Homo sapiens: one gene and its partner. The protein of the gene in region 2 interacts with the protein of the main gene of each other region in a pairwise test. Each region holds a gene or a part of one and is shown on either strand. Other genes may lie near its edges. The genes, in order: USP13 and FNBP1L.

Region 1 (3,827 bases), on a different chromosome or scaffold from region 2:
CAGCAGAGAATTCCAAGGAGCCATTCAGTTTTCTATGAGGACTTTTAAGAGACATTTACCCAAGGTCTTGGTATCAGAAAAGCATTCTATCTCCTAAAGGACTTCTTACTGAACATGGAATTTCATGCATCCCTCTTTCCTCTAGGGCCACAAGCAGCCTCCAAGTCAAATTTCTGACCCCCTGTTAACAAACATTCAAGATGATATCAAGTTTCTTTCAGTTTGCTCATATTACCCCAGATTTATTTATCTCATTCGCTGTGTGAAAATCATTCATTTTAGCTTTATATTTATAATATGCAAATAAATCTTTATGGGCTATGATGAGATTCACAGTTAGATGAATCAAACATGAATCAAAATGATCAAAGTACATTGGAAAGTCTCAACTGCTACAGAAATAAATTCACACACACACACACACACACACACACACACAGTCTCTCATGCTCACCGTTGCTCGTAGTGCCTGAATAGCCTGATTTCGCTGAAATCCCATGGAGGTGATGATAGCTACGATTTCCTCTGGAGGTTGGTTATCCAGTCCAGAAGCACCAAAAACAGAGGCTCCAGCAGAAGCTGCCCCTCCATAACCAGGCATGGTCAGCGGCTCAGCAAAATCTGAGAAAAATAACCACACCCAAGTCTTTTCCTTTTTTTTTTTTTTTTTTTGTCCTGAAACAACACTAACAAGGAAAAACATGATTCTACAAAGTTATAATAATCAAGACAGTCTGGGCCAGGCGCAGTGGCTCATGCCTGTAATCCCAGCACTTTGGGAGGCCAAGGCGAGTGGATCGCCTGAGGTCAGGAGTTCGTGGCCAGCCTGGCCAACATGGCAAAATCCTGTCTCTACTAAAAATACAAAAATTAGCAGGGCATGGTGGTGCACACCTGTAATCCAGCTACTTGGGAGGCTGAGGCACAAGAATCGCTTGAACCCAAGAGGCGGAGGTTGCAGTGAGCTGAGATTGCACCACTGCACTCCAGCCTGGGCAAGAGAGCAAGGCTCTGTCTCAAAAAAAAAGACAGTCTGGTACTGGTATATAGGCAGACATATGGATCGATTAAATAGAATTGAGATTCCAGAAATAAAACCATATACCTGTGGTTAACTGATTTTCAACAAGACCATTCAGTGGGGAAAGGACATTATTTTCAACAAATGATGCTGGGACAACTGGATATCCACATACAAAAGAATAAAGTCAGACCCTCACCTCACATCATACACAAAATTAACTCAAAATGGCTCATTGACCTAAATATAGGAGCTAAAACTATAATAATCTTAGAAGAAAACACAGGAGTAAGTCTTTGCCATTGGATTAGGCAATGGTTTCTTATTTACAACACAAAAAGCACAAGTGATAAAAGAAAAAAAAGATAAATTGGACATCATCAAAATTAAAAATGTTTGTGCTTCAAAGGATACCATCAAGAAAGTGAAAAAACACCAGAATGGGGGGGAAAACACAAATCATATATCTCATAGAAACTCGTATCTGGAATTTGTAAAGAACTCTTAGAACTCAATAATAAAAGGATAACTTCATTAGAAATGGGCAAAGAATTTGAATAGACATATCTCCAAATAAGATATACAGTCAATAAACATACGAAAAGTTGTTCAACATCATTAGTCATTAGGAAAATGCAAACCAAAACCACAAGATACCACTTCATACCCACTGGGATGGGTATGATAAAAAAGATAATAATAAGGGTTAGTGATGATATGGAGAAATTGGAACTCACATTCATTACTGGTGGAAATGTAAAATGGTTCAGCCACTGTGTAAAACAGTTTGGTCGTTCCTCAAAATTAAATATAGAGTTACCATATGACATGGCAATTCCACTCAAGAGAAGTAAAAATAAATGTCCATCCACACAAAAACTTGTAAAAAATGTTTATAGCAGCATTGTTCATAAAAGCCAAAAAATGTAAATAACCCAAATGTCCATGAACTGATAAAGATTAATAAAATATAGTATACCCATAAAATAGACTATTATTATTGTTATTATTATTATTATTTTAGATGGAGTCTCACTCTGTTGCCCAGGCTGGAGGGCAGTGGCGTGATCTCAGCTCACTGCAACCTCCGTCTCCTGGGCTCAAGCAATTCTCCTGCCTCAGTCTCCCAAGTAGCTGAGACTCCAGGTGCCCGCCACCATGCCCAGACAATTTTTGCATTTTTAATAGAGATGGGGTTTCACCATGTTGGCCAGGCTGGTCTTGAACTCTTGACCTCAAATGATCCTCCTGCCTTGGCCTTCCAAAGTGCTGGGATTACAGGCGTAAGCCACCAAACCCGACCCAACAGACTATTATTTTACCGTAAAAAGGAATGAAGTACTGACACATGCTACAACATAGATGAATCTTGAAAGCACTATGCTAAGTGATAGAAACCAAACACAAACGACCTTTTATTATATGACTCCATTTATATGAAATGTCCAAAACAGGCAAATCCCTTGATCCAGAAAACAGATTCGTGGTTGCCAGGGGCTGGGGTGAGCAGGAAAATGGGGAGTGACTGCTATTATGTATGAGATTTCTTTTGAAGGGTACAAAATGTTCTAAAATTTGATAGTGGTAATGGTTACACAACTGTGAATTTATGAAAAACCATTGAAATGTACACTTTAAACAGATGAATATATGCATTATAGCTTAATAAAGTAGATAAAAGAAAAAGCTAACTAAACATCCTCCATTTCTTCATGCCCATGTTTCCATTTCAAATTTTCATCATCGCTTAGTTAGAAGTATATCCCGTATCTTTCTATTGGTCTTTTTGCCACTGACTTATACACTTTAAAGGGATGAATTATATCTCAATAAAGCTGTTTGGGGTTTTTTTTGTTGTTTTTTTGTTTGTTTGTTTTTTTGAGACAGAGTCTCGCTCTGTCACTCAGGCCAGAGTGCAGTGGTGCAATCTTGGCTCACTGCAGCCTCCGCCTCCTGCGTTCAAGCGATTCTCCTGCCTCAGCCTCCTGAGTAGCTGGGACTACAGGTACGCACCACCATGCCCAGCTAATTTTTGTATCTTTAGTAGAGATGGGGTTTCACTATGTTGGCCAGGATGGTCTTCATCTCTTGACTTCGTGATCCGCCTGCCTTGGCCTCCCAAAGTGCTGGGATTACAGGCATGAGCCCCCACGCCTGGCCTAAAGCTGCTGTTTTTAAAAAAAAAAAGAAGAAGAAAAAGACTGGCTTTCTCCTCCACTGCAGGAGATTAGGAACTATAAAGTCATTTTCTAGGGATACATCCACAGGGACCTTGGAAGGACCAGGACTCAGCATCACTGAGGGTCACATCAGACTCCAAAGCCATTCCATTTTCTCGCCACCTACCTGGCTCTTCCATGTGAACAATGATCCAGTTGAAGGCCACCTCGGCGCCCATATTTCCAGTGAAGTACACAGCCTTGCGACATGCTTCCAGCGGGAAACCCATCTCGGCCAGCTGCATCACTGATGACTCATCGATGTCTGATGCTACAGAGCACAACAGGATATTCTAGTGTGAAAGAGGAAACTGTCGCTTCTTGTCTTAGCTACTCTCCACTCTCCTATCCACATGCTACCCAAAGAAAGTGCTATTCTGTTGGGTGTAGATAATGGTTTTACTTTGTTTAGTTTTGTTTTAAGCCACACAAATATTAAAGCTATTTGGGCTAAGTTTATATCTTTGACCCACATAGGAACCAGGTTAATTACCTGGACAATGCAAGCAATGAAAAACGATTCTCTAATTTCATATGGGGAGATTTAGTGTATTCCCAGAACGATTTCAGAGCATTCTCAAGACCTC
Region 2 (3,827 bases):
TAGATCTGTATTATTTTTATTGTTGTATGATTGTTTTAATTAGTATTTCCAGTCCATGGTTGGTTGAATCCACAGACGTGGAAATCAAATGATATGGAGGGCCTACAGTATACAGTCACAGATAAAGGGAAAATAAAAAACAATATAAACGAGCTGTAGTAATAATATATATTTAAAAATAAAACTAATTTCAAATTAGTAACATATTATTAAAGGAAATAACATCCTTCAAATATTCTTGCAGCGGCGCTAAAATAAATACACTTTCATCTTCTAAAACCCAGAGGTATTCCCCTCCTGCCACCAAAGTATTCAGAAGCAAGAGGTAATCCCTTCTACCAATAAACTAAGATTTTCTTCTGTGAATTTTTAAATGGTCTGAAAAGTGGTTTGATTATATACAAATGTGTAACTACACACACACACACACACACAGACACACCCATACACACACACAAGAGGTTCATGAATCAAGCAATCAGCCAGACCAACCTCTTTGCCTGCCTGGTTCCAGTCTACCCTTCATCACTACTTTCAGACATTGTGCACTCAAATTCAAGTCAAACGCAACACTAGACTCAGGTCAGTCCAACAAACATTTATTAAAGACCCTACTAATGTCAGGCTAATCCAGGCAGGATACAGCAATGAATCAGACAATGAATAAGCAATGAGTAAGACACAATATCTGCCCTCTAGGAACCTGTCAGGAACCCCCACCTGCATAACCCTTCTTATTCCAAAACCTAGGTCAAATGACAGTCTTCCTAAAGATTTTCCTGTGATACCTAGAATGAAAAGTCACTTTTCATAGCCCTAAAGTCCATCTATTACTTTCTAGTTGTTTTAGGGTTGCTTTGAGGCTCATGCTGATATCTAATTGATTCTTTTAGTATGCCCCACAAAGCCTAGCTTAGTGCTGAAGCCATAATAGGCATGAAATAAACATCTGTTGAATGAACAAGCATCAGTCCTGTTTACGTGTTTCAGGTGTATTAGATAGACATGGCCTGAACTGAAATATGGAACGGCTTTCACATTCTATAGAACAAAACCTTTACATAACCTTTCCTACCAGTTTTTAATATTCTATAGATATATTCCCCAAGACAGATTTTTTTTTGCTATTGAAGTGAAAATGTTTAAAGATTGAAGATTATTAAATAAGACAGCACTTGTTGATATACACAGAAGGTATTTGACATTTATAAGCCATTACTATTTCTCTTACTATTTCCTCTCTACAAACTAGCTGACAGAGGAAAAAGTTGGTAGAATAGGTTTTTTTAAAGTTTCCAGCCAAAATCATATTTTATAGGTTTATAGGGTGGGGGAAGGAGAGAGAGCAAATATTTTAAGAAAAAGGCAAAGAAAGCAAGCAAATGGAAGTAAATGGAGTATGAGTGGCTATGCAAAGGAGATACTGGTTAGAGGCAGCTCTCTAGCTTCCAACTTATTATAGTCATTATGGAATGGTGACATAAACAGATATCTTGATACCTCTCACTCATCCTCCTTAACTAATAGCAATAACGTCTGTAATACAATGTTGAACACAACAATTTCTACCAACAAAAGGGAATGTAAGATATTTAAGTATTTATACCATGACAATTTCCCTAAGATTTGAATACACAAGAAATAACTATAATAACCGTAATATAAGGTGGTAGTCCCATAAGACAATATCCAGAATGGGTAGTCTGGAGGCATGGGGTTGATAGGAATTGGTCAACAGAGGGCATTCTGGGCAGTGGTATCAATGTAGGGAAGTATTTTGGAGTTTACAGTAAAGTTATATCATCTCAAAGCAACTCTACCTTTTGTCAGGGCAGGGCCAATATCATAAGCCTTCATAAATCTCACCAAACATAACAGTGCTTCCCAAATAATAGACACAAAATTATTGTATTTTTAAAACAAAACTGAATTCCTACAGCAGTTTCACGGCCTTTCATTTACTTTTGGAGAAGCAATTCAGTTTACATTAATAATGAATTTTCTTTGTCAACCTCCTCTAGACAAGCACCCTCCAAAAAATGTGAAGTAAAATTAAAGTCAATATTATAGACAGTCCCAGCTTCTTGAGAGCTTAAGGAAGGACGATTGTGGAGCACAGAGTTCAAGACTGGCCTGAGAATATAGCAAGACCCCATCTCTAAAAATATACATATATATTACAGATATGGTCTAACCAGTAGACTATGAGACCCAATTCCTTTGTTACAGATAAATCTATTAATGTGGCCTAAGATTTCACCAATTATTTAGGCAGTCACATTACCAAGCTATCAATCAAGTAAATTCACCAGAAATTACCTGTAGGTCTTTTCTTCCCCATCCTTTTACCATTTTACTTGACAAAAATGTTTAACCCAAGTAGTAAAACTTAACTTTATAATTTTGGTTTCAGCTTTAGACTTTCTTGAGCTGTTATCCAGATCACCTAACCTATCACCATCTACAAAGGCCTTCAGAACCCTAAAGATACACTTGCTAATTAGTAATCAATACTCTGGGTAATGCAATCAACTATTAATGCAATTGGGCAAAACATGCATGATCACCTACAAGCATTGTCTTGGTCAGTGAAAACAAAGATGAATCCAGCCTTTCTACACTCAAGGACAATCTAGTCACTTACAATGTAAATTTAAGTGCTATATAAAGTGTTATGAAGCCAAGATAATAAAGTATTAAAAGGTTAACACTGAGGATAATACATAAATTATCCACCTAATCTATCACTCAACCCACATTTTTCAGTTTCTTCCAAAAAGATATAAGCTTTGTCAAATGCATTTAGTTAATAATATGATGAAGACCGGGCACGGTGGCTCACGCCTGTAAACCCAGCACTTTGAGAGGCCGAGGCGGGCGGATCACAATGTCAGGAGTTCAAGACCAGCCTGGCCAACGTGGTGAAAACCTGTTTCTACTAAAAATACAAAAATTAGTCGGGCATGGTGGTGTGCACCTGAAATCCCAGCTACTCGGGGGGCTGAGGTGGGAGAATGGCTTGAACCAGGGAGGCTGAGGTTGCAGTGACCCGAGATCGCACCACTGCACTCCAGGCTAGGCAACAGAAGAGACTCCATCTCAAAAATAATAATAATATAAATAATATGATGAAAATAACAATGGCTTTTAAATTACACATTCTTAAACTAAGGGCCAAAGATTATATCGACCAAGAAATTAAGGCATAAAAAAGATTTATATGCACTTATAAATTAAATCAGATATTTGAATCCATCTTCTAACTACCAGACTTGTCCAGCATTTTCCTTGGGTAGCAAATTTTTCAGTAAATCATATGAATGTGAGGTGCTCAGCCATATATTTTTTTCATATTTATACACACATTCACAACCCATACACAGATTTTTTCTGTCGAACTTTAACTAGGTCCTCAAAAACTAAAAACCTATTTCTTAATAAGTAAAACTTATTTACTAAACATAGGTCTTTTCCAATCTCTAATGTCCCTATCTGTTAAAAAAAAGCTAGTAATTTCAAAATCTGTGCTTTGTGAAATTATTAATTCATATTTGGCTATCTGATCCATCCATTCTTGCTATGTAATAAAGAAATGAACACAATAAGCAATGCCTAAGATGTTACCACGCATCCTGAAGAAGTGAAGACAGTATCATCTCTTTCCTTGGTATTACCCAGAATACAATGCAAAACTGTGACTGTAGTATATATTCACTAACTTATTTACTCATTTGGAACACTAGAAATCCCTGTAAGCACAGCTCAAATTTATTACAAGTTAATTCATATCCCCTAACAACTACGCAACCAAAGTCTGACACGATCCA

The links.
Region 1: the proteins of FNBP1L (region 2) and USP13 interact in a two-hybrid assay, tested with the Homo sapiens proteins (one large-scale study listed by BioGRID and IntAct).

What each region holds. Positions count from the first base shown.
Region 1 is NC_000003.12:179,760,796-179,764,622, reverse strand, and holds part of USP13 (ubiquitin carboxyl-terminal hydrolase 13), read right to left. Parts: intron 3,512-3,827; coding exon 3,368-3,511; intron 622-3,367; coding exon 455-621; intron 1-454. UniProt on the Homo sapiens protein: Deubiquitinase that mediates deubiquitination of target proteins such as BECN1, MITF, SKP2 and USP10 and is involved in various processes such as autophagy, endoplasmic reticulum-associated degradation (ERAD), cell cycle progression or DNA damage response.
Region 2 is NC_000001.11:93,450,945-93,454,771, reverse strand, and holds part of FNBP1L (formin-binding protein 1-like), read right to left. Parts: intron 1-3,827. UniProt on the Homo sapiens protein: Required to coordinate membrane tubulation with reorganization of the actin cytoskeleton during endocytosis. May bind to lipids such as phosphatidylinositol 4,5-bisphosphate and phosphatidylserine and promote membrane invagination and the formation of tubules.